Linked DNA regions of Homo sapiens. The protein of the gene in region 4 interacts with the protein of the main gene of each other region in a biochemical or structural test. Each region holds a gene or a part of one and is shown on either strand. Other genes may lie near its edges.

Region 1 (4,428 bases), on a different chromosome or scaffold from region 4:
CTAGTCCTACTTGAAATTACAAATATAGAATTAGTAAATGGCGTAAGAGCTTTTTTATTTTACTTCCATCAGCTAGCTGAAAGTAAGGTTCTTCAGTATTGAGGGATTTGCATTGTTGACTTGAATACACTTTTAGGGAGTATAGGTATCAGTTTCTCATGTCTCCTTGCCTTCATTTGTTCAGAGTAACAAGGTAAAGTATGTGTTTTCCTCTCATATTCTATAGGTGTTAGTGGTCTGTATGACTTTGGGCCAGTTGGCTGTGCTTTGAAGAACAATATTATTCAGACCTGGAGGCAGCACTTTATCCAAGAGGAACAGATCCTGGAGATCGATTGCACCATGCTCACCCCTGAGCCAGTTTTAAAGTGAGATCTTACTTTGGAGTGGGGGTATCCTACTTTAAATAAAATAACTTATTAAATTATTTAATATACTTATCTAAATAACTTCCTGATTATAAAGAACTACTCATTTCATGTAGAAAATCTGAAAAATATGGAAAAGCAAAGAAATGTATACCTTCTGCTCACAGATAGCTATGTTAAGATGATTGTGTTTGTCCTTCCTGTTTTTTCTGTACGTCCCTATGTATTTCAGTGTTAGCAGTACACTGCTTATTTTCATGTAATATTGATGAACATATACTCATATCATTAACTATTCATCTAAAGCATTTTTAATGATAGCATAGTATTCTGTTTTATGGAAGTGCCATAATATGTTAGTTTGTGCCATATTGAAAGCATTAAAGTGTTTCTCATTTTTGACTGCACCGAATATCTTGATAGATGGATTTTTGGGTATATCCTTGATTATTTCCTTAATACAAGTTCTGAGCAAAGGTATACTTGTAGAGATTTTCAGTTAAATACTATTTGTTTTAAAGTTTCAATGCAGAAACTTAGATTATTCCTACCAACGTTATTGAAAGTAGGGCAGAATTTCCTTTTTTTGTGTGTGTGAGATGGAGTCTTGCTCTGTCGCCCAAGCTGGAATGCAGTGGCTTGATCTCGGCTCACTGCAAGCTCTGCCTCCCAGGTTCACGCCATTCTCCTGCCTCAGCCTCCCAAGTAGCTGGGACTACAGGCACCCACCACCACGTCTGGCTAATTTTTTTTTTGTATTTTTAGTACAGACGGGGTTTCACCATGTTAGCCAGGGTGGTCTCGATCTCCTGACCTCGTGATCCGCCCGCCTCGGCCTCCCAAAGTAGGGCAGAATTTCAGAATGTGAAACTGAAAGGAATTCTTTTATTTATTTATTTATTTTTTGAGATGGAGTCTCGCTCTGTCCCCCAGGCTGGAGTGCAGTGGGGCGATCTCTGCTCACTGCAAGCTCCGCCTCTCGGGTTCACGCCATTCTCTTGCCTCAGCCTCCAGAGCAGCTGGGACTACAGGCACCTGCCACCGTGCCTGGCTAATTTTTTTGTATTTTTAGTAGAGACGGGGTTTCACCATGGTCTCGATCTCCTGACCTCGTGATCCGCCTGCCTCGGCCTCCCAAAGTGCTGGGATTACAGGCGTGAGCCACTGCGCCCGGCCTGAAAGAGGAATTCTTGCCATTTTGTAACTCGTCATTATTCATTTAAGGTTGACTGGTGGAGAGCTAATTTTTACTATTGGCATCCGTTAGGTTCTCTTAATAATTTCAGCCAATGAAGAGGAGGAATTCTGAATGATGGCTCTATAAGATCAGGACTACCTATCATTTTAGCTACTTGTTCCACCAATAGGAACTTTGTAGAGATAATACCAATGTCAGTACAGGTTTCAGTGGCAGAAAACACTTCCCTTAAGGTTCAATGTCTATACTGAGCTGCCATGAATTCTTAACTAGTCAAATTCCCAGTGATTTTGGCCTTTGCTTAGATCACTAATAATAATGGCATAGGCATGGATTAATTGATCCTGAAGAATAGTACAGACTTTATGACAACTTGTAGAAAAGAATTGTCTTTTTATTGTCTAGTTAATGTCTTCTTTCTTATGGGAAGGAAGAATGTGGGAGAGGGTGAGAAATAGATTTGAGGAAGAATTTTCTCTGGCATCCATTACTGTCATGGATACATCATTACTATAGATATGGGAGCTTCCATCTTTGAGATGGATATAAATATTGATGGGGAATTATCTTATAAGGTAATATCTATGTGTAATTTGTATGAGAATGACAAATTGGGTTGGCATTTGTTAATTTAGGACCTCTGGCCATGTAGACAAATTTGCTGACTTCATGGTGAAAGACGTAAAAAATGGAGAATGTTTTCGTGCTGACCATCTATTAAAAGGTGAGGTTCTTCATCTCCTTCAGGTAGGATTGATCAAAATAAAAGGTTTAAACTTTCTCTCAGATGTCTTTCATTAAATTTTTTATTGAGGCATAACATTCAAAGAGCAAAGTGCACAGATCTTAAGTATATAGATCAAGTCCTTTATTTTTTAAAAAAGTTATATGTAGATAATTAGTTATATACAGATAATTTTTCTAATTAGCAAATGAATCAAGACAATACCATGACTGCTGTTGTAAAATCAACTGTGGGATTCATGTAAATTAAGAACTTTATGCTTGGATTTACTTTTTAATTGTCTAGCATTGAAACTGAAAAGTGCATTGTCCTTTTTCCCATTGATTGATATATGTCAACACTGTTCTTACAGCTCATTTACAGAAATTGATGTCTGATAAGAAGTGTTCTGTCGAAAAGAAATCAGAAATGGAAAGTGTTTTGGCCCAGGTGAGTACTCTAGAGATGTTATCAGAGTAACCTAGGTGGTCGCTGTCCTTCTTTCAGTGTTTAATGACTGTTGCATTTCCCATTATGCTGACCCTGGCCACATTGTAATGAAGCAGAGGTTAATTCTGTCCTGTATAGCGTCTCTTTTTTTGCATTTTTATTTTCTTCTCTCTTTTGTGACTAACCCTTTATTTCAGCCCAAACTAACAAGTCCGTGTTAATAGGCATTCAATTTGTCTGACCTTGGAAACTACTTTTCTGGATTTAATAGCTAAAACCACAGGAGTGACTGATGATGGGTAGTGTTCAGCACTGGTGTGGAGACTTCGGGGCAGATAACTTGATGAGCACTTTCTCACTGGCTACTTGATCTGCCTCTGCTTGGACCCTGATTTCATGCTATTATTCTTAGAACCTCATGAGCAGGTCCTGACTTTTCTGTCCTTGCTTTTCTCAGTTTGCCTATAGGCCTAAAGTTTTATAATTTGTATAATATTTAAGCTGACAAATTTTAGAGAAGACAAAAAAGAGACCACAGAGATAATTTATTCTGACCTTTTACCAATTGCAGGAATACTTTCTATATTAGAAGTAGTTCTTATCCTTTTGTTGGGTCACAGACCACCCTAAGAATGTGATCAAAACTGCACGTCTCCCTGGGAAGATGCATGTGCTCATGTATATATGTTGCTGGTGTCTCACCTCATCTGTTGGCTATTCCGTTTAGGCAAAGTACATTTCTCCAACACCATGTTTAGTCATGAGGTCTACTGAGGCTCACCTCTTAAATTTTATTTACTTCCTTGGGCAAAAAACAAAAAACCAATACTGTGATTATACCTATTTTCTTTACACCGATCTCTCTCTCTCTCTCTGCCTGAATATAGAACTCCCTAATATGTTGTTTTTCATGGGAATTACTGGATACTTTTCCACTGTTGTCCTAATTTTTTTTTTAGCATGCTTTTTTTCTCTGTGATAGTTAACTTTCCAACATAGCTAAAATAATTTCTCCTTCTTCATTTACATTGAAAACTTTCTTAATTTGGCTGTTGAATCATCTGCTGATTTATTTTGATACTTGTGGAGTGTAATTTTATCCCTTGCTTGAAGCTCATTGTTTTAGTAATTACTCATGGTTTAGAAAATTATTTCTTACATTTTGATACTGTTGAAGCCACACGTTCATCTCATTTTCTTATCCAAAGGCATGCCCTTTATTAGAAAAAATGGAAAATGCCTCTAAGTATCCCTAAAATTTTCCATTCAGAATTTTAGATTTACTGAGGTTTTGTGTATATGTTTTTGATCTTAACAGTATTATTCATTTCCAAGTACGTTGTCAGAGTTGGGAAGTAACTAGTTGATTTGACAAGTCAATTTATTGTTTGAGCATTGGCCTTCTCTCTTATTTCAGATCTGTGTTCTAGGAGAGCAATTTGTTTTTTGACTTGCCATATCAGATGCATGTACAGCTGTCAATATAATCTTCAATGAAAAGTAAGGGACCCATGGGAAATGGTGTAGCACTCAGAAATGGCCCTGGTGGATTCACTGGCTGAAAGCCCATCTGTTGCTTAAGCACAGAGTAGCGTTTTCTGCACCTTAGTGTCTGACTCCTTTTCAGCTTTATGAAGCATCATTGTTTCTTTAAAAGGCCCTGATTCACCTTCTGTGGTAGGAAGACC
Region 2 (4,428 bases), on a different chromosome or scaffold from region 4:
GCTAGAAAACCACATTTATGTCTACTAACCAGATATTTCTTCAGGTATATAATTAGGCATGACGATTATTTTATAGTTTTGTTATCAGATCTCTTTTTTCTTAAAAAACACCTTTTTCTTTACTCTGTTCTGAGTAAGTAGAATCAGCAAAATCAAAGTGAAACTTACAAAATAATGGTCAAGAACTAGCTTCTCATGGCTACTCCAGATCAGTGAGTTCACTGGCCATTCAGTTTCAAAGACATAGAGCACTAGTTCTGGTACAATATAACTATCAATTCACCAAAAGATAGTGAATTAGTATGAGCAAGATTAACATAAGATAAGCACATTTATAAATCATACTATGTAGACCGTCTGTGCTAAGCATAGAAAGTTACCGACTTTTTAACATTGCCCTAAGTTAGTATTTTTAAAAGGCTAATTATTTCAAGTTGCCTGTTATGAATATTCAAGTTATTAAATTTAAACATAGGTTAGGGGATAGAAAAACTGTATGAGTTATCTCAAGTTCAAATAATTTTACCAAAAACTACATTTTATTCAAGAAACAGAAAAGGAGTCATTTGGTGCCATGCTTTTATTCAAATGAAAGGGGAAAAACTACACTGTACCAGGAAATAGCAAGTATGACAGTATTTTACAGCACAGCATCTTAAAAAACAAAAAACCTGTAAGCAATGCTCTAGAGTGGACAGGTAAGCACACCATACACTGTACATTGCTCAACAGTGTCCATGAAACCATAATTAAATAGCTGAATTTGGCTTTAAACAGCCAAATAAAACTGTAACAGTCATTCTAATACAAAACGGAAAAACCAAGAACTAAATCTTTCCAAAGCTGTGTCAAATAGCAGAATTTGACAGGCTGCACTGGTAACCACGACAAATGTTTGGCAAACTTAATGGAATAGTTATCATAATAATTTGACCTCTGATGATGAAAGCACCAGTGTGTTTCAGTAAGGTTGACGAAAATCCTCAGACTTTATGAAATGGCATATTTTTCAACTGTATAATTTTAAAAACATAATTAAAAAAAAGCTGCACCATAATAAAAAAATCTGCAGACTTAAAGAAATATATCCATATTCCTTCTGCATTAATAAAGTAAAATCTTATACTGAGAGCAATGAACTCTGTGGCAATATTCACATTCTACCTTTAGACCTTATAGACATTCAATTCAACTGTTGGACACACACAAATTTAAGAATAAAGGGTGGTCCTGTTTAGTTTTAAAGTTTCTCCATTGTCTTGCATCCAATTTTCTTTATTTAATAGCGAAGTAATATCACAAAGATTGCTTTGATGAGGGAAATTTAGTTAATATTGAAATGAACAAATTTAGTAACGTAAAATGCTTATTAAATTATCCTTTTGACTACTATTCACATTTTGATTAGATTCATTTATAATTTTTTAAACTAGTTTTAATCTAAACGTGTATTTGACTATCATTTCCTTCTAACTGTGATAGAAATTACTGTCCAAAAGGTAAAATGTGCAATTCCCCATTTTTAATATCCATATGTTATATACACAATATGTATACACTTAAAATATAAGAGTTACATATCCTGGTCTCTTACATGCAAACAGTAGATCACAAATAGTTTTGAGCTACACATGTATCTTGCACAGGTATTGGAAAAAAATCTGTGAAATTTTTTTACAGTTTTAACAAATATACATAAATATAAGAACATAAATTACAGTAAAATATTGACAGCATTTGAGAAAATGTTGATAACCCAGATGCACTGATGCCTAAAGGCCTTATAATAATAGAAAAGTACAGCTCAGGGACATCTCATTCCTATTCTTTTTTTTAAAATAAGTAAATACATCATATGAGACATTAGTTCTTTCTCTAAACAACTCAATTAGAGAAATGTATATATTTTTATCTCTACTTCCCATGAAAGAAAACAAACTACGCATCTCATTTATGATACAATACTGTCTTCCCCCGCTAGTTTACACATTTGTCACAACACTGAAATATAACAGGGTCACATAATCATTCAAGTCTTTTCCTGAGAATGAAGTTTTTCCCCAACTAACCCTCTGGTATACACTGTTAAAGAACAAAGATCATGTAGAGGAGATTTCAAGTGTATACTTATTCTAAGCCATTCCACTTGAAAAGGATTAAAATGAAGAAAAACCCAATATAAGTAAAATAATGTGAAGCTATTTTAAAATTAAAATGTAGCCCTTTGTACATGTTTAAAAATTCTAAATATAATTTTTATATGAGTTATAAATATAATGTAAAGACTTCTTGAGAACTTGTTTCAGGAAGTCTTACATCTTCAGATTGAAAGACTACTCTCAAAGTGTCATTCACTTCTGCCAACTTATAAAGTGACTTACTTTAAAAGAGATAGAAAGCCTTTTTTGTTAAAAGAACAATCTAAATTATTCTGAGTTGGCCAGAAGTGGTGTAAAAACAGCACTGATTTAATCAGCAACTTCTCATAACATATTCTTGGTTAAGCTCATGTGGTTTAAAGCGAACCTACTAGCAGCTCTTTACAACACCTCCTCTTATTTAATAGAGAATGTTAATACTTGAGTGAATAATAAATAGAGTTGTAAATACTTAGCAGAATAATTTTTGCAAATGCTGTAACACCATTAAAATATGAGGGTTACTGTAAAACTAAACACTAGTGTTTCTCTTAACATCATAAGAAAGGTGCGAGTTACTTCTAAAGGTATATTTCCTACTTTCATGATCTCCACATGAAATAAAATACAAAGGTATCTTAGAATAAACCCCCAGGAGAGAAAAATAGCAAACCATCTGAAGACAAGAATATACATTAAAAGGTTAAAAAAAAGCAACAAATAAAACACATAATTTGTAATCTTAACCATATTTCAATGATAAATCCAACTAATATCCATGAAAATTCAGTGCTTTAATGTATCTAATATCAAGCAGGTGAACCTGATAACACATACAAATCTCCATTTGTGAATTAAAACATTTCCTTCATCATTTGGACTTATCACTTAATTGAGAATGTTCTGCACTCCAAAATACTGTGGTTTACATTCCAGTTGTTCATGACAACAGAGCTTAATGTCCAGTTTTAATTAATAAAAGTCTTGTTGGCAATTAGAAAGATTTTCTATAGGCAGGAAAGATGAAGTGCAAATTTACCATGAATGTTCTGAAGCAAGTATTTCCCAACTTCTATGCCTTAGTGGGTAAAAGTTTTTTGGGTGTTACTGGTCTTTTGGTCTGCCATAAATGGCTATGAATGGTAATTGCATCAACACTGGCAGATAAAGTTTTAGCGGGTATGTGGCTAAACTGTTTCCTGTCAGAATTATATTTGTAAAGTCCTTCAATCATTTTTTTAGTGATAGATTTAGGGCCTATCCCAGTCAGTTTATTGATTTCTTCAGTTTCTGGGCAATAAGTGTATAAAGATCTGAACTGGCATCCTGAATCCCGGAACAAGATTAAGAAGTTGTTGGCATCTGATTTCTCCATTTCCTTTAAAATAAAAAACAAAAACAACATAACAACACGAATAAAAACCCTTTATTTTGCTGAATAAAGTTTATATAATTATGTTACGTTTCTTAGTCACATTTTATAACATTATTTCAATGACAAATCTTAAAGCCTATTGCTAGTCTTTAATAAAATCTGCAGGCTTCCAGAACCTAATGTGAAAATAAACTAAATCTGATAATTAAAACATCTAGCTACAGATCTTTTTACATGCTGTTGAAAGTCTAGGCCCATGAGAGTACATTCTCTTGAATGGATAAAAGACTTCTACAGTTTGCCAAATTTAATTTTCATGCAAACATGCTTACCTCCAGTATTTTTTTCTTCTGACCTTCATTTACTTTTCCAGCCAAACAGCAATGAGCTAAAGCATTTTGTATTATGTGCTTATTGGATTTTGCACTGGGTTCTTTGTAGAGCTTTGGTCCTATGGTAGGGATTTAACAACAATAATAAAAATAACATTCCTAAGTCAGAAATACTACTATTTTAAAATGATGTAATTGTTCCTACACTGCTGAAATATTGTAATAGAAGACCAAATTCTGTGCTTAAAGGCCTCTTACTGGCTGCAATCCAACCAAAACATTGTTTTATCCACCCAGAGATATGGAGGATGTTCCTATGGCCTTTTGGAGTACCCTGTGAGAGCAGTACTAAAAATAAAATATTGCTATAACTGTCATACTGCCTATTTAACCTTCTTTCTTAAATCTATACGGTTACTGGTTAGCTTAGAGTAGAATGGGTCCATGAGTAATTTAAGTCTTTTCAAAAGGCAAAAAAAAGCTTTCTTTTTCAGATTGTTCAACTGAACTAACATAGAGAAGCAGAGTGAGTAACATGGAAATACTGTCAAATCCCAGGCCTTAAAGGCTGTCAGACTGGCGG
Region 3 (4,428 bases), on a different chromosome or scaffold from region 4:
CCACTGCAGTACTGTCCAACCCTGCCAGAGCGGAACTGTCTAACCTGCCAGGGCGGCACTGTCTAACCTGCCAGAGCGGCACTGTCTAACCCTGCCAGGGCGGCACTGTCTAACCTGCCAGGGCAGTACTGTCTGTTTGTTTGGTCTTTGATTCAAAAGAATTGCATTTATGGGCTTGTTTATAAATTCACTAAACATTTATTGAATTTTATTGTATTCTAGCCCTGTCCTCAGTGCTTAGGATATTGAGAGGACTAAAATTCAGTCTCTACTTCTTAACTCAGGTTATGAATCAGAATAACCTTGGGAGTTTTCTGAGCATATTCTTATTTTTGGCTTTGCCCATGGAGGTTCTTATTAAGTAGGTATGAGATAGGTCCTAGGGAAATGTCTATTTTAAAAGTTCCACAAGTGATTCTGATGGGCAAGCCTAGCTTGAAAACCATGAAAACCACCATATGACCAACCTGTTCTGTATTGATACTAAGAGTAATGCCAAGAGGTGATATGAGAAAGCATATTTTTCTTCCTGATAACTCTCTTTGATGGGTGGTATATATCCTGAGAGTATCTGGTTTCATTTAATTACATTTGGATTTCAGCTATAGTATTTGCAACTCTAATTTTAAACATACGAACTTGGTGTAATAAGTTCTATGGATTTACCTACCTGCTTTGTAAATAGTAGTGTACATTTTGGTTTTTAAGCTTCAGAAGTGCCCCTAACATAGTATTTCAGAATATATGATATGAGAATATGTGATAAGAGCATATGATTCTTGCTTTGTTATTCAGGCTGGTCTTGAACTCCTGGCCTCAAGTGATCGGCCTGCCTTGGCTTCCCAAGGTGCTAGGATTACAGCGTGAGCTGCTATACCTGGCCAAGGATACACAGTTTTAAAATTTGACACTATAGGCCAGGCACGGTGGCTCACACCTGTAATCCCAGCACTTTGGGAGGCTGAGGTGGGTGGATCACCTGAGGTCAGGAGTTTGAGACCAGCCTGTCCGACATGGTGAAACCCCATCTCTACTAAAAATACAAAAATCATCCGGGTGTGGTGGCATGTGCCTGTAATCCCAGCTACTCTGGAGGCTGAGGCAGGAGAATCGGCTCGAACCCTGGAGGCAGAGGTTGCAGTGAGCCGAGATCGCGCCACTGTACTCCAGCCTGGGCGATAGAGCAAGACTCCGTCTTAAAAAAAAAAAAAAAATGACACTCTAGATGCTAAATTAAAGTATAGTTCTTCTTCCCCAGATAATCTGATAGTGGAGGAAGCAGTGCAGGAGCTGAACTCTTTCCTCGCACAGGAGAATATGAGGCTACAGGAATTGACAGATCTTCTTCAGGAAAAGCATCGCACCATGTCTCAGGAGGTACTTAACCAAAAAGGAGAGATGGCTGTGTCTAGTGGGCTGTGGCAGATGTTGACTTACAATTCTGAGCACCTCAAAGATTACCTTACTCTAGAAGGCCTATCATATCATAGGGGATTTTGTAAAACACAACACAACTCCAAACCTCCAAATAATGAATTACCCTAAATATAAAAGACTGTATAGTGTTATTGAGGAATGGCGTGGTAGAAATTCCACAGGGAATGGGGAAGTAGAAACTACTGTATTGATGATGTCCTAGGAATTTGAGGAATGTCAATTTTCAGTCTAAACTTGGGTGCAAATAATGCCATGATTAAACCATGCCAAGATTTGGACATTTATTTATTTACACAAAATGATCAAGATAAAGTGATGATAGGCCTTAAATGACTTTTCTGATACTTCTGATGATCATTTTGATTTAGTTCAAAATATATTCTACTGGAATTTGCCCCACCTTAGTTTGGCCACTGAATTCTTATGCTAATTAGTAATTTAGTAGTTGCCATTTACTTAGTGCCTAGAATTTAAGCACTTTATGAATGTTATCTCTAATGGCAAAACAACTCCCATTTTATTGCCAAAGAAACAAATTCAAAGAGGTTAGTGATTATTCTGAGGGCACATAGCTAGAAAGTGATTGAGCTGTGTTGTGACTGTAGGTCTGTTTGACTTCAAAGCTCTTGTTCTTCATATGCCTTTGTTTACTAAACCCCAGTGTTAAGGTCCATGCTGGCCTGGTTGCATGAATATCATCTGGGGAATTTATTAATTCATATGGATTATCCTGGACCTTCAAAGGGGTTAGAATGTAGTAGCCCTTATAAATAAACTGGAGTCTAGTAAGAAAATAGAATATTTTTATCATGTTTTAAGACATTGACTAGGTGCTACCAAGATGGAGAGGTCTTCCTTTTCTAGCCCTTTGACAAATCTCAGATAGTATTACTAACCTGGAGGGCAGTTGTTTGCTAAACTGTGATGTCCTTGTTGGCTCTCATGGCTGGCTGTTGATGCTGCCTGTCAGCTGGGTTAATTGTCTACTGGGATACCTGCAGTTTGCCTCTCCATCATGGTAGTCTCAGGATGGTTGGAATTTTTACATGTTGGCTGACTTCTTCCAGTGAGCATCCCAAGATCACCAGGTAGAACCTTCATGGCCTTTCTGATATAGCCTCAAAATTGTGTAGTGACATTTCCATTGGGTCTCTAAAGTTGACCCAGATTCAAGAGGAGGGAACAAAGATCCCACCTCTTGTTCAGAGGACTTTCAAAGGATTTTTGTGTCATGTTTTAAAACCTAGCACAAAGGGTATATATAGATTAATGTGAACTTGTAATAGTTTAGTAGTTAAAATACTAAATAGTGTTAGCTGGTGTATAGCTCCTAAATAGAGTATCTGACTTTAGATTATAGTATAATCTATACTGTATTGTATCTGACTCTAGATTGCTCTGGGGTGAGCTTAAAAAAGAGTATGGAAGTTTTCTTTTGTTGTGAATGAATGGATTACCTTTTGTGGGACTGTGGAGAGAAATTTGGGGGTAAAAATGGTTTTTTTGAAAAAATATTTATCTTACAAAACAAAAGATACTATTTATTATCTCTTAAAAAATTACAAAATTTTTATGAGTTTGTGGTCTGTCCAGAGAAATGGTGCTTTTCAGAGGTAGAAAAATTGTTGAATCTTAGGTGGTCTTTTCTTTGTGTGAGAGTTCTTATAGACTTTAGACTTAAAGTTTGCATGATTATAACTGACACAGAATTGTTGGAGGAATCCGTGATTTCATTTTTGTAATCATGCATTGGGAAGAGGGTGAAGCATCTTCTATTTGCCTCTTTTCTATAATTACTCATAAGCAAGGGTTAATATTATGGAATTTGGTCTTTTTTTGCTATATGTTTCTGAATGTTTGTCTTTGGGATGTAGTTCTCCAAGTTGCAGAGTAAAGTGGAGACAGCCGAATCACGAGTGTCTGTCCTGGAGTCCATGATTGATGACCTGCAGTGGGATATTGACAAAATTCGAAAGAGGGAACAGCGACTCAACCGACACTTAGCAGAAGTCCTAGAACGGGTCAGTGCTGTTTTATGGCTTGGAGACTAGAATCATTTTAAGGAGTGTTCTCAGGAAGACTCACCTTGGGGCATGGTATTTGAGGAAAAAATCTCATCCTTTGAAGGTACATTGGTTATAGACTGAAATCTTAAGAGTCTCTCACTAAAGAATCTTTGTGTTCTCTGTAGGTGAATTCCAAAGGTTATAAGGTGTATGGAGCGGGGAGCAGTCTGTATGGCGGCACAATCACTATCAATGCTCGGAAGGTAAAATCAGTGACTCAGGACATGTTTTGGACTGTATGTCAGCTTTCATGCTTAGGTACTTAGGACTGTGTTCACAAGTGACATCATGGGGTTTTGCTGGAATAGCGAATCAGTGAAGAAAGGAAGCTTAGAAATGATTTAAGAAGAATACTTATTTATTCTCTATTTTTCTGCTTCTCTGCAGTTTGAGGAAATGAATGCAGAGCTTGAGGAGAACAAAGAGTTGGCTCAGAACCGTCTCTGTGAGCTGGAGAAACTTCGGCAAGACTTTGAGGAGGTCACTACACAAAATGAAAAGCTGAAGGTAGGAACGCATCCCTGAAGGGCAGTAAAATCAGACGTTCTGCTGATCAACTCACGTATATACATAGTTGTGAATCTGCGTATTCATGAGGGATAAGAAAAATGTAGACAAAATCCAACATCCTTTTATGATAAAACTCTTAACAAATTAGGTGTAAAGAAGTGTACCTCAACATAATAAAGGCCATATAAAACAAGCCCACAGCCAACATTATACCCAATGGCGAAAAGTTGAAAGCTTTTCCTTTAAGATCAGGAACAGGATAAAGATGCTCGCTGTCATTACTTTTGTCCTAGCCAGAGTAATTAGGCAAGGATAAGAAATAAAGGCCTCTTAATCAGAAAGGAAGAGGTAAAGTTGTTTCTGTTTATAGATGACATGACTTTATATATAGAAAACCTTACAGGCTCCACGAAAA
Region 4 (4,428 bases):
ATTGGACTTGGAGGGGAATACAGAGGGCATGGAAGTGGCGAGGCTGGCCTGTTGGCGAGGGTGTCCTGGTGGTGGGGCGGGCTGAGTCAGGGAAGGACTCTGAAGGTCCCAAGCAGCTGCTGAGGCCCCCAAGGAAGTGGTTCCAACCTTGGACCCCTAGGGGTCTGGATTTGCTGGTTAACAAGATAACCTGAGGGCAGGACCCCATAGGGGAATGCTACCTCCTGCCCTTCCACCTGCCCTGGTGTTCACGGTGGCCTGGTCCCTCCTTGCCGAGAGAGTGTCCTGGGTCAGGGACGCAGAGGACGCTCACAGACTCCAGCCCTTTGTTACCGAGAGGACACTTGGCAAGGTCCAGCGATGGTCCGGAGTCCACACACAGACTGGCGGCAGGGCAGGAGGGGGACAGTTCTGTTGTGCTTGGTTGGACAGTAAGAGGGTCTTGGCCAGTCCAGGGTGGGGGGCGGCAAACTCCATAAAGAACCAGAGGGTCTGGGCCCCGGCCACAGAGTCATCTGCCCAGCTCCTCTGCTGCTGGCCAGTGGGAGTGGCACGAGGTGGGGCTTTGTGCCAGTAAAACCACAGGCTGGATTTGCCTGCGGGCCATGGTCCCTGTCTAGGGCAGCAATTCTCAACCTTCTTGCTCTCAGGACCCCAAAGAGCTTTCATTGTATCTATTGATTTTTACCACATTAGCAATTAAAACTGAGAAATGGGCCGGGCACGGTGGCTCACGCCTGTAATCCCAGCACTTTGGGAGGCCGAGGCGGGTGGATCACCTGAGATCAGGAGTTCAAGACCAGCCTGGCCAACATGGTGAAACCTTGTCTACTAAAAATACAAAAAATTAGCCAGGCACAGTGGTGTGCACTGGTAGTCCCAGTTACTCGGGAGGCTGAGGCAGGAAAATCGCTTGAACCCAGGAGGCGGACGTTGCGGTGAGCCGAGATCGCGCCGCTGATTCCAGCCTGGGCGACAAGAGTGAGACTCCATCTCACACAAAAAAAAAATAACAAAAAAACTCAGAAATGCTAAGTGTACTTATTTGTTGAAGAAACTTGTTACATATTACTAACATCTTTTTTTTTTATGAGAAATACTTTTCCCATAACCAAAAAATTCAGTGAGCAGAATGGCCTTGCTTGAGGTTTTTGCAAATCTCTCGGGTGTCTGGCTTAGTGGGAGGCAGCTGGGCCCTCATACCTGCCTCCGCACTTCAGCTGTTTGACATAAACCCAGCTTCGTGTGAGTGAAAGGGAAGGGCCTGGGGACCCTCAGAGGTTCTCGGACCACACTTTGAGAACTCCTCGTCTGGAAGACAGGCCTGGGGATGCCATGTGGGGTGAGGGCTTACGGGCTTGGTGTCGCTTTGTGGAGAACCGCTGGTGTCTGAAGCGGGTGTCAGCCCCACTGCACCTTGGTGCTTCTGGGCTGTCCTGATGCCGAGGCCCACTTCCCAGCCATGCTGACTTTGCCTCTTTCCCCTCCCAGCAGAAAAATGGCTACAAACTTCCTAGCACATGAGAAGATCTGGTTCGACAAGTTCAAATATGACGACGCAGAAAGGAGATTCTACGAGCAGATGAACGGGCCTGTGGCAGGTGCCTCCCGCCAGGTGAGAGCTGCACGTGGGGCGGCTGGGCGGCTCTGCTGCCCGACAGGAGTGGCCGGGGCACACAAAGCGGATTCAGCCAGGCCAGGAAGGCAGAGGCACCCTGGCCCAGTGGCTCTGCTGTGGGTGCTGGGAGTGGGGTCTCGGGGCAGGCGGCCTTGGCCGGGCCCCCGGGCCGGGTCTGCTCAGGGCCCTCCTGCCGGCGCCTGTGCACTTGGTGTGGGGCCAGGCCTGGCACTCCTTCCCCCGCAGACATGGGCGCCTTTGCCTGTCGTCACAGCCTCAGGCATCTCCCGCTTTTCTGGCCCGCCAAGCTCTCGTTCTGTGCAGTACTTTCTTGCTGTCTCTATGTGAGGGTTCATGGGGTTTTTTGGTTTGTTTTTTAATTAAATTCTTTTTTAATAATAAAAAAAAGACTGGTTCTTTCTGCACTGTCTGCAGGAGAACGGCGCCAGCGTGATCCTCCGTGACATTGCGAGAGCCAGAGAGAACATCCAGAAATCCCTGGCTGGAGTGAGTACCCGCGGCCCACGGACCTGCGGGCTCCTGCTCGGCCAAGCAGCATGTCTGATTTTTCCTGATGCTGCTGGTTGTTTTGGCTTCACAGCAGAGTCAGGGCAGGGTGCACGGCGCTGTGCTCCTTGGGACGTGTGGCTCTGTGACCTCCATGCCCGGACTGCCACGGACAGTGTTCTTATTCTCGCGTCCCTTCCGTGCTTACCTCGTCTGCCGGCTGGCGGTCACACTGGCCGCTCCTGTGGGGCCGGCTGGGAGCTGAGTGGTGCCATTTGCAGGGTGTCCTGTGGGCACCTGGCATGAGAGCCTGTGCCTCCCTGCTTGCTCCCTGTGGCAGGACTGTGTGTCTGCTGGGCCTTCCCACATTCCCTCTTAGATCTTGCCTCACTGGGGAGAGAGAAGTGGTGGTTCTGCAAGGCGCAAGGAGTTCAGAGCCTAGAGTTGGCACCGTCTTGAGTTGGAGACCCAGAAGGAGCCCTGTATCCCTGCTTGGCCTCCAGGCCCCGGGCCAAGATCAGGAGTTGGAGGCAGTAGCTGTGGCCTGACAGGCTGGCTGGGGAAGGGGTGTCCTCCGGGAGGTGGCAGCCCTGGTGTTCCCGAGGAGTTGGGACTGCGTTCTCCCCGGGACGGGGTGGTGTCCTGGCCCCAAGAACGGGGTCAGTGTTTCTGTGGCTGCTGCTATGGCTTTCCACAGCCTCACGCTGGAAACAGTACATCTGTATCATGCCGGGTTTCCAGGCCAGAAATCTGAAATGTGTCTCACGAGGCTGTCCCCAGTGTCAGCAAGGTCGCCATCCTTCCAAAGGCTCAGGAGGAGTCTGTTCCTTTGCCTCTCCCAGATTCTGGTGGATGCCCACGTTGCTTGTTTCAAGGTGCTCAGCAGGCAGCCTCATCCCCGCCCCGCCTCCACTTCCATCTCGCGCCTCTCTCGAACCTCCTGCCTCGCTCTGTCACTTACGTGGTTCTTGTACTTGCTTTGGGCCCCCAGGATCCCAGGTCCAGGATGTTCCCACCTCAAAATCCTGAATTTAATCGTGTTTGCCAATTCTTCTTTTTGCCATGTAAGGTAGTGGATTTGCAGGCTCTGGGGGTTGGGACGTGGGCGCCGGAGATTCTCATTGTCTCATTTGTAAGGTGCATTGCTCCTCACCAACATCTGCAGAAGCCTGGGTCCCCCACAGTGTCCCTCCAAAGTCCAGAATCCCATCCAATCAGGCATGGGGGATTGCGTGGTCCATCCTGAGGCAAAATTCCTCTCCATCTGTGGACCAGTGAAACTGGAAAGCAAGTTATCTGCTCCCAAAATACAATTGTGGGACAGGCATTCCCTTTCAAAATGGGAAAAAGAAGAAGGAAACAGGGCGTCACTAGTCCCAGGCAGTTTCACAGTCCAGCCCGGCGGGTCACGTGAGGTTTGAAGGGAGCGCTCCTGTGTGGCCCATGGTCCCCCCCGCTGTCATTTTTTAACATCCCTATTCCTACCAACAGCATGTTCGTGGCAGTTTAGGTTGTTCTAGAAGATGACGTGTTTTCTCTGCCCTGCTCCTCACCTCCTCTGAGTCCTCACCGAGGGCCTTAGCATCTGAATTCTGCCAACAGGGTGCTCAAGACAGGCTAGGGTTTTTCTTTTGGAGGGGGTGGGTGAGTTGTGGACAGAGTCTTGCTCTGTCGCCCAGGCTGGAGTACAGTGGCATGATCCTGGCTCACTGCAACCTCAGCCTCTGGGGTTCAAGCGATTCTCCTGTGTCAGCCTCCCGAGTAGCTGAGACTGCAGGTGTCTGCCACCAAGCCCAGCTGACATTTTTTTTTCTTTTTTTTTTTTTTTTTAGTAGCGGCAGGGTTTCGCCATGTTGGCCAGGCTGGTCTTGAACTCCTGACCTTATGATCTGCCCACCTCGGCCTCTCAAAGTGCTGGGATTACAGGCGTGAGCCACTGTGCCCGGCCCAGTCTAGGGGTTTTCTGTCACGCTCCTCAAAATTCTTCCCGCCTCACCACTGCCCAACTCCAAAGCCATCTCCACATTGTTAGGCATTCCAGCAGCACCCCACTTCCTGGGCCAGGATCTGTGTTGGTTTCCACTTGATGTTGCTGTAACGTTGCCACACTTCCGTGGCTTAAAACAGCACAAGTTCCTCACCTTACAGTTCCGGGGGCCAGAAGTCTGAGATCATCTTATGGGGCAAAATCAAGGCTGTGGTCCTTCTGGTGTCTCTGCGGGGAGAATCCGCTTCCTTGTCTCTTCTGGCTGCTGGAAGCTGCTCACGGTCCTTGGCCCAAGGCTCCCAGGCAGCTGTCTTGT

What was found.
Region 1: the proteins of EEF1D (region 4) and GARS1 form a complex in vitro, tested with the Homo sapiens proteins (one study listed by BioGRID).
Region 2: the proteins of EEF1D (region 4) and CAMSAP2 form a complex in vitro, tested with the Homo sapiens proteins (one study listed by BioGRID).
Region 3: the proteins of EEF1D (region 4) and RNF20 form a complex in vitro, tested with the Homo sapiens proteins (one study listed by BioGRID).

What each region holds. Positions count from the first base shown.
Region 1 is NC_000007.14:30,600,833-30,605,260, forward strand, and holds part of GARS1 (glycine--tRNA ligase isoform 1 precursor), read left to right. Parts: intron 1-226; coding exon 227-368; intron 369-2,201; coding exon 2,202-2,290; intron 2,291-2,663; coding exon 2,664-2,740; intron 2,741-4,428. UniProt on the Homo sapiens protein: Catalyzes the ATP-dependent ligation of glycine to the 3'-end of its cognate tRNA, via the formation of an aminoacyl-adenylate intermediate (Gly-AMP).
Region 2 is NC_000001.11:200,856,842-200,861,269, reverse strand, and holds the end of CAMSAP2 (calmodulin-regulated spectrin-associated protein 2), read right to left. Parts: intron 3,965-4,428; coding exon 3,846-3,964; intron 3,517-3,845; coding exon 3,211-3,516; 3' UTR 566-3,210; downstream 1-565. UniProt on the Homo sapiens protein: Key microtubule-organizing protein that specifically binds the minus-end of non-centrosomal microtubules and regulates their dynamics and organization.
Region 3 is NC_000009.12:101,543,509-101,547,936, forward strand, and holds part of RNF20 (E3 ubiquitin-protein ligase BRE1A), read left to right. Parts: intron 1-1,258; coding exon 1,259-1,377; intron 1,378-3,311; coding exon 3,312-3,458; intron 3,459-3,628; coding exon 3,629-3,706; intron 3,707-3,890; coding exon 3,891-4,010; intron 4,011-4,428. UniProt on the Homo sapiens protein: Component of the RNF20/40 E3 ubiquitin-protein ligase complex that mediates monoubiquitination of 'Lys-120' of histone H2B (H2BK120ub1).
Region 4 is NC_000008.11:143,583,916-143,588,343, reverse strand, and holds part of EEF1D (elongation factor 1-delta), read left to right. Parts: intron 1-1,491; coding exon 1,492-1,615; intron 1,616-2,053; coding exon 2,054-2,125; intron 2,126-4,428.